Homo sapiens: one gene and its partner. The protein of the gene in region 2 purifies or fractionates together with the protein of the main gene of each other region. This does not show direct contact. Each region holds a gene or a part of one and is shown on either strand. Other genes may lie near its edges.

Region 1 (2,678 bases), on a different chromosome or scaffold from region 2:
CCATTGCACTCCAGCCTGGGCAAGAAAGTGATACCCTCTTTCTCTCAATAAATAAGAAACCCCAATTCAGTTTGGCAAACACAGGGGATTTTGCCCCAACTTCCCTTTCTCCTTTTACCTGAAAGCTCAAGCTGAGCTATTGGATAGGACAGTCTGGATTAGCACTTCCCACACCAAGGCCTTTTAGTAACCTTAACTGCCTCTTATTCAACATCCCACAGCAGCCAACTCAAAGAAGAGAGATGTTACAAAATGAGACTGAGATGCAGTTTGAGTGACCACTTTTTAGAATGTCCCTGAACATTATAGCCACCACATACCTTCCAGACATTTCCAAAAGAGCAGTTGTCTATAAGAGAACAGGAAATCCAAGAGGCTTGAGGAGCTGAGAAGGAAGGGGAAACATTGTATGTTCTGAAAGAACATCAGTCAGGAGTTGTTTCCAAGCTCTACTGGCTCTGGTAATGTTTCCCTTTTCCTATTTGCTTTTGGAAATAAAGCCAGGTCTCCTGTCCTAAAGAAGCTAGCTCAAAGACAGACTTTTCTGTTCAGACACCAGCTAAAATCAAATTGCATATGCTACAACATGGATGAACCTTGAAAACATTATCCTAAGGAAAGAAACCAGACACAGAGGGCCACATACTGCATTACTCCACTTACATGAAATGTTCAGAATACGCAAATCTCTAAAGACAGGAAGTGAATTGTGAGGCGCTGGCAGGTAGGGAGAATGTGGAGTGACTGCCAATGGGTATGGGGTTTCTTTTGGGGCTAAGAAAAATGTTCTGAGACCAGATGCAGTGGCTCATGTGTGTAATTCCAACACTTTGGAAGGCTGAGGGAGGAGGATCACTTGAGGCCATGAGTTCGAGACCAGCCTGGGGCAACATAGTGAGACCTCATCAAAAAAATCAAATTAGCCTGTGGTCCCAGCTACCCCAGAGGCTGAGGCAGGAGGATTACTTGAGCTCAGGAGGTTGAGGCTGCAATGAGCAGTGATTGCACTACTGCACTCCAACCAGGGTAACAGAGTGAGATCCTGTCTCAAAATAATTCTGGAATTAGTGGTGATGCTTGTACAACTTTGTGACTACATTAAAAACCACTGAATTGTACACTTTAAAAGGACTAAGTTTATGGTATGTGAGTTATATTTTAACTTTTTTAAACGGGGAGAAAAATCAAGTTGCAGTGAATTCCTTGGCCTCGGGGAGGAGGCCCTTTCCCCTTAGAGCAGTGCTCCTCCACGTATGGTGCCAAGACCAACAGAATCAGCATCACCGGGCAATGACTAGAAATGCACGTTCTCAGGCTCCAGCCCAGAGTGACAGAATCTGGCAATGGATCCTGCAATCTGTGCTTTAACAAGCCTGCCAGCTAATTCTGATGTGTTTTCTTTTTTTTTTTTGAGACGGAGTCGCCCAGGTTGGAGTGCAGTGGCGCAATCTTGGCTCACCACAACCTCCACCTCCCAGGTTCAAGTGATTCTCCAGTCTCAGCCCCCCGAGTAGCTGGGATTACAGGTGTATGCCACCACACCCAGCAAATTTTTTGTATTTTTAGTAGAGATCGGGTTTCACCATGTTGATCAGGCTGGTCTCGAACTCCTGACCTCAGGTGATCCACCTGCCTCGGCCTCCCAAAGTGTGGGGATTACAGGCATGAGCCACTGCGCCCGGTTGATGCATGTGCTTAAGAACCACTGCTCCAGGGCAGGGGAAACTTTTTGTGTCAAGGATCAGACAGTAAATATTTTAGGCTTTGTATGCCACATAGGTAGGGTCTCTGTCATTCCTGTTGTTCCCTTTTACAACTCTTTAAAAATGTAAAAACATTCTTAGCTTCCAATTGCACAAAAACAGGTGGCAGGTGGATTTGGCCCCTTGAGCCATAGCTTGCCAACTCTTGCTCTAGGGCAACACAGCTCCCATTCTGGGAGATCTGGAGCTTCCTGTGGAGACAGGTGGATTTCCCCTTTAATGAGGGAAATAAACAACAGCCTCCAGGCATCAGACAAGTTCCCCTTATATAGTAGTTGTGATACCTTCTGACATGCCAAGGCCAAAGTAAGGCCAGATCCTGCTTTCCATTCAGGCTTCATTAACTTAGTTTACAGTTTGTGTGTATGTGTGCCTGTGTGCTCTTTCAACAAATTTATTCAATTCACAGTGATATCTGTTGGACAGAGTCAGCAATCCTACCAGACAAAACTCATACACACATTGATTCCAGATGAGAAACAACAGTCCCCCAAGGAGCTTGAGAAATCACCTAGGGCAGCCAAGCTGGGGAAGGGAAGTGGCTGTGCATTGCTGTGTGTCCTTTAAGGCTCTTTGGTCCTGGTTGATTTCCTCTTAGAAGGTTCCAAATAAAACTTCCCTTTCCTATTCAGTACACACCAGTCTTTCTTTGGTGTTTAACCTAATGGGCTGAGGAAGGGAGGCAGCCAGGAAATTATACCCATTAAAGTGTGTGGTTAATGCCTATATATATCATTTTTACTCACAGTTAGTGGACTTATCTTTTAAAACAGAGGTATGTGGCAGTGGGGTAAGAGAACTTCCCTTATTATAGAGAAGATTCCAAGAATAGGTTCAGACATGATTTGAAGAACCATGTAACTCTGCTGCCTTGCACGGTCCCCTTTTTAGCACTAATAACTCCTAAGTGTCTGA
Region 2 (6,063 bases):
CACATGCAAAGTCATTGGCCCCGATGCCAACTCCTCCTGGGAACAGAAAGGGTGGGGTCAGGAATCTGTTTAATCACCTAAGTTGCTTCCCTCCTCTACCTAGATCTGAGTCAAAAACAGGTGCCATGGGAGACAAATTTAGCCAGCACAATATTTTTGAAAAGTATACCGAAATACCCTAAGCAAGGCAGACAGGGCACTTTTTTGCTCTGTGCAGCACCCCTTGCCCCCATATCCTCCAGGGCTACTGTAGATGTGGGCACCCCTGGCCTAGCTACCGAGTTACAGCTTCTGGTGTCTAGTCACAGGCAGTAAGGAAATGCTGGCTCATTTTTTTTTCCTCCCAGAAAAAAAGTCTTCAAACAGAATGACCTGGTGAACTTCCCAACTCCAGAATTCTGTGCAGTTATTTTCTAGTGACTGACACCGACTTCAGCCAGCTGTTTCTTTAGAAGTCTTCCCTATGGAGTAAAAATAAGAAATAACTTGTTTCCTGATAGCAGCAAGGAGAACAGAACACCACTTTACCTGACAGTGGAGAGCCCCAGACAGATACTCGCTTCCTGTTCATTCCCCTGCCATCGTACGGTAATGGGCACTGATATTAAACATGCATATTTCACAGTCTCTTGTCCCGCGATTTGGAGGATGGCCATTCACTATGTATGAACCACTCACTCATGCTCATCACACAGAGAAAATTACATTTTCCCAGTTGCCAAATGGAAGAGATAAATTATCTCACGTGGACAAGCACATTGCTCTCAAGAGCAGCTTCCAGACCTAAGATAAACAGATTAAAAAAAAAAAACAAAAACACGCTGGAGGGGGACTCTGAGCTTTCCAGGTGTTGATGGGGGTCAGTCTCTTCATTCGGACTCGCCAGATCCTCACTTTGCAGTTAGTGGGCTTAAAGTGGCGGGACATTTGCCCTTCTGTTTCTTTTGGATTAAATGAGCAGCCTTGGGGCCTCTTATTCTTCCTTCATAGAAGAGATGTTATAAAAATGAATAAATCAACACAAAACATTTCATATTTATGCCTACTTGCTGAATTGATACTACTTGTAATGAAAATCAAGGAAGCAAAATGTTAAAATGTTCTCTTTGGGGAAGACACATTGGAATGTCTTACCACAGATATACACACACTCGCTTGTTACACACTCCTTCCTTATCCCTAACTATTCTCTGAGGTTAATGAAGGTCCTGATAACTGCAGTCTCTAACTTAGCATATCATCCTAAACCTACTACCTGCACACATAGGAGTCGCAGCGCAACTATGTACTAATGGCAGCCAACACTCATTACCCTTCATACCACCATCACTGTGCAAACCCTTAGTGCATTTTCCAATATGATCCCACAATCCTTCATTTTTATGTTTTGCCCACGCTAAAATTCGACAGCGAATTCTTGCAACAATTATTAAGCGTCTGGAATTGTATTAGGGTCTGGGGGTAGAGGTGGGGGACGAAGCGGGAATAACTGCAGTACACAGCAGACCCTATGAAAGTGCCAAAACGCAGGTCTCACTCGGAAGGCTTTGGGAGTTGGGAGAGGAGAAGGCTCATGGGCAGCTAAAGCCACCAGTGACCTCATTATGCAATATTTAGGTTATCAGACTTTTCTATGCCTAGAAAAGCAGCGCCTCAACCATTCCAACGGGACGCACCGCGTTCAGTGACGACCCTCATCGGTGCCCACAGCTCTGGGCTCGCTGAAGGCACCACAGAAGCACCAGTTATTACCAGTGTTAGGGTCCAGTGGCTTCTTCTGTCCCTTTCCTCTGGATCCCAAAGTGTTGGTTCTCTTTTGTTAGTTTTATTCCGGTCATGCCAATGAGCACAGATTCACAGCCCAGGCGGCCCGCTCGGAATCCCAGGCCGGCTGGGGACCGGTGCACTTGGGCTCCGCGCCCCCTCGACCCTCGGCCCAGTGCCCCTTCCCGCGCGCGCGGGTCTCCCCGGTTCCAGAGCCCACCGGTCCCCGCCGGCTCCTTCTCCCCACCCACCCTCCCACCGGGCCCCCGGCGGCTGCAGCCGCGCGGGGCTGGCGGGGCGGCGACCGGGCTCAGGCAGATCCCCGCTTCCCGCCTTCTCGGCGCCCCCTCCCTCCCGGACGGAGCCCGAGGATCCCCCACCCACGGCGGGCGTGAGGAAGGGCTTCTGAGTGACTGGAGCTCTACCGCGTGTGCCCCGGGAAGGCCAGGCTACCCGGGACGGGGCTCGGCTCCCCAGGTGAGCTCGTCTCCGCGGGACTGGGTCCGGGAAGGCCCCAGGACCGCGCGGCTGAGCGGCCTGGAGGCTGCGGGAGGGCAGAGCAGGGCGCGCGGGAGACTGCCGCCCCCGGGCGCCCAGGGCCCGGCTCCCCAGCGCCACCGCCGCAGCAGGTGGGGGCCCAGTGGGCGGGGGCGGGGCCCGGCTCTGGGCGGAGCCGAGGCGGCGGCGGCGCAGGCTGGGGCCGGGGCCGGGGCGGGAGCCGGAGCCCGAGCTGGAGCAGCGAGCCGGGCTGTCGGGGCGACCGCGGGAGCTCGCCGTGCGCCGTGGCTGGGACCGGCCTGGCCGAGCGCGCCGGCGCCGCGGCCGCAGACAAAGGGCGGCTCGCGCCCGGGCCGCCACGCTCTCGGGCTCTGCCTCGGTAAGTGGCTCCCCTCCGCTGGCTTTCTCCTCCCGCCGCCTGCGCCTCTCGGAGTTCGGCGGGCTCCGGAGAAGCGGGGAAGAGATGAGACTTCCCCGCCCGCACTGCCTCCCCACCTTACCCTAACAATAAGCCCCCCAGGCCAAGCCACTGCCAAACTAGCGAGTTTCCGAGCGGCGGGGGTCTCCCGCGGGACCCGCCCGGCTGCCCTGGGTGAGCTCCTCGCCTGCAGACCGCGCGCCGGTGCTGTCCTGGACCCGTTTGGGATGGGAGGTTGCCGCTGGGCTCCTCGCGTTGTGTTTAGGGGAGGAGGACGCAGGGGCCGGGCGCCGCTAGGGGACCCCACCCCCGGGGACAGTCCGGAGCGCTTGGGGTCGCCGAGGGGCAGTTCACACTGCGAGTTCAGATTCGGATCGCAGTCCCGATTATCCTCCCCTCCAGCCTCTCCCTTTCTCGTTGAAGGGTTAATACAGCGTCCTCTCCCCTCGCCACCCGACAGAGGCGCCTACACTGGCGGTAGGTAGCCCCTGGGAGAGGGGGAGTGGGGGGACCCCGCCGCTTTCGCCGCTGGGCGACCCAGAGCCCCAGCCTGCCGGAGAGGGCAGCGGCTCGGGTTTGACATCCCAGCTGGGTCCCGGGCCGGCTCCCTGAGCCTCCTCCCGGGTTGCTCTCTATCAGGAAAGCAATCGGAAGTCAGGCCGGCTTTTGCTTTTGTTCTGCCAGCTACTCTACGGAATCGTAGGTGAAGCCGGGGTGGGCGGATGCCCCGGGAGGGGGCTGTGGCGGGAGTTCCAGGTGCGTCCCCGAAATGACCATTGGAGGCGGCGGCTGTTTCCCGCCCCTGGGTGGGGAATGGATTCCGATCGCTAATCGATACCCTGGAGCCAGCAGTGGGTCAGCAGCGTCCCGACAGAGCGCAGCGGCCGCGTACTGTCACGCGCCTCTCCAGCACTCTCGAAAGCACTACCTCGAGACGTGCATTTCCATTCATGGATCTGTGCCTGGGGGTTGATTAATGTCACCCCTGCCTGGGTTGAGGAGTGTCCACAACTGCTCAGTAGCCATTTACTGGGAGGTTACTGTGTGCAAGGCAGCTATCTTAAATAACCTTAATGTAAAATATACTTATTGAGCACCTACTATGTGAAAAGCAGGTATACTGCAGACTTTTCAATTGAATGGATATGTATTGAGCACCTACCCCGTGCGAAGGTGAAGCGTCATGACGTTCTCAATGTAACAGATATTTATTGAGTACCTACTATGTTCAAGATAGCTATGCTATGACCTTATTGTAATATGTATTTACTGAGCACCTACTAAATACTAAAGGCTTTTTTGCTGAAGGGTTGCCCAGTGTACTTTTGGGGTACGGATAGAAACAAGGGAGAGAAAATATAATATCTTCTGAACCTCGAGTCTTCAACTCCTTTAGTGACCTGCGTTTTAACCTTTCCAAACCGCTTGTGTGGTGTATGAAGGGCTAGTCTTCTACACTTGAGGGTACACTTCTATGCTTGAGGGTTTGTCAGACAGGAGCAGGGCTGAATAGTAAAAAGGCTTGCTCTGGAACCTCTTTCCAATTCAGTTTCCTTGCATTAGAAAAGTCAGCCTCTTTGCATAAAGCACCATGGAGTTATCACAGGGAATCAAAGGGCAATAAGGCAAAGCCCTAATGCTCAAAGGGACAGAGAATCCATGCTGGAGACAGACAAAAAGACACCTCCCTTTTAATGCTACTGTCATACCGTGCTTAAACAGCTATTGTGGGAATACTCAGTGCTTTAAACTAAATAACAAAGCAACCTTGGATCATCTGATCCAGAAGTTCTAGACAACTGACCTAACTCCTAGAATTCTGCTTTTGAGCAGTGAGGGATTAATTGTAATTTTTCTTCATGTCAGAAATTAATTGCATGTATTTTTCAATTACTAAAAAAAAGCAAACAAATAGAAATTAGTGATTTGTATTAATCCAGAACCTAATCTGCTTTAACTCAATTACTCCAGATGCGTGAATCTCCTGTTGGGTTGGTTGCAAGTTGACTCAAATTCGTTGTTTCACTTTTGCTGCAGGTTAAAAGTCTGCCTCTTACAAACCCTGGCTATATCACCCTCTTGTTTCTAACTAAACAAGATTTTCTCAAATAAACTTCATTCTGCATTTTGGCCAATAAAAAAAAAAAAAAAAAAGACACCTCCTAAACAAGGAAGGAACCAATAGGGGAAGGGAGAGGGAAGCATGAAGACAGGGCCAGCTGAACCTTCCAGCCCCTCACTCCAAACTGATACCAGTGATGTTGGGGTGAGAGAGTCTAAGTCCCATCATTGCCCATGGCTGGGGCCCTAGGACTGGAATTAAATAGTTTTCCTGCTAAGAGATTTGATGAATCTGTTACTCTGATAATCTTAGGATCTTGAGATGCACTGGAATATCCAGATTGGCGAGAAAATCATATCCATTAGCAAATATTTGAGTATTTACAATGCAATATAGGCATTTATCAGGGAAATGTAGTCTAAGACGTAGTCTTTGTCTTAAAGAACTCTGGTTCATGAGATAAACATGTAAAATGACAACTTGGGCAGCATATATGAAAAGCCAGGAGCAAATTCCTCCTGGAATTTGACATAAAAAATATTCTCACCACATGGAACTGTGGTTTTTCTCTTATCAGACATTGAGAACTCTCTACGTGCCTTGTATGTTTATCTTTTTGCCTTGGCCTCTAGAAATTCCTGGTAATGGCTTTATCCCAGCTTCTTGGTACAATGATTTTTTTCTCCCTAAATTATTTCTGAGACCTCTCTTTTAAATTCTTTATAAAAAACTATATTACAGGATTTTTGTTGTGAACTTGAAAGCCTCTCTGAAATCTTTTCTGTAAGTAAGCCCGTTATGAAAGATACATAGAAAATATGGTAAGTATTAGATGAATGTGCTCATAAGAAAAGGGGGAAAAACTATCCGGAATTTACAGAGAAAACAAACGGGCTTTGCAAGATGAAATAGGATTCAGATGGGCAAAGACAACTAACAAAGACTTTCCTCCCAAATTGAGGGAAATAGCGTTGGCAAAGGTGTCAAGGAAAACAAACCGAATTTAGAGTACTTTAGGTATTTGATAGATCTTCCTCTGGAATAGTTTCCATTCACTCAACACACGAGTGCTGCTGGAACATTTTACTGTGTCAAGGACTAGGCTAGGTGTCAGGTGGGGGGCATCACCCAGAACCAATTGAGGTTCAGCATGATCCCACAGCTGTCAAGGACCTTTGTCTCCTGTCCTGGCTGTGGGGTAGCACTGCCCTGCATCTCAGCCATTCTTTCAAGCATTCCTGGAGTTTTTTCACCTGAGCTGAACTTGACTGTAATCTTCTTCAAGGCCAAGAATGTGACTTTTTTTTCTCTCTGCATCCCT

What was found. The genes of interacting proteins can lie anywhere in the genome.
Region 1: the proteins of MAPK4 (region 2) and SFXN2 purify together in Homo sapiens (affinity purification with mass spectrometry, with the first as the bait; one large-scale study listed by BioGRID). This does not show direct contact.

Annotation. Positions count from the first base shown.
Region 1 is NC_000010.11:102,738,636-102,741,313, reverse strand, and holds part of SFXN2 (sideroflexin-2), read right to left. Parts: 3' UTR 1-2,678. UniProt on the Homo sapiens protein: Mitochondrial amino-acid transporter that mediates transport of serine into mitochondria. Involved in mitochondrial iron homeostasis by regulating heme biosynthesis.
Region 2 is NC_000018.10:50,557,603-50,563,665, forward strand, and holds the start of MAPK4 (mitogen-activated protein kinase 4), read left to right. Parts: upstream 1-2,484; 5' UTR 2,485-2,641; intron 2,642-2,659; exon of another isoform or gene 2,660-3,157; intron 3,158-6,063. UniProt on the Homo sapiens protein: Atypical MAPK protein. Phosphorylates microtubule-associated protein 2 (MAP2) and MAPKAPK5.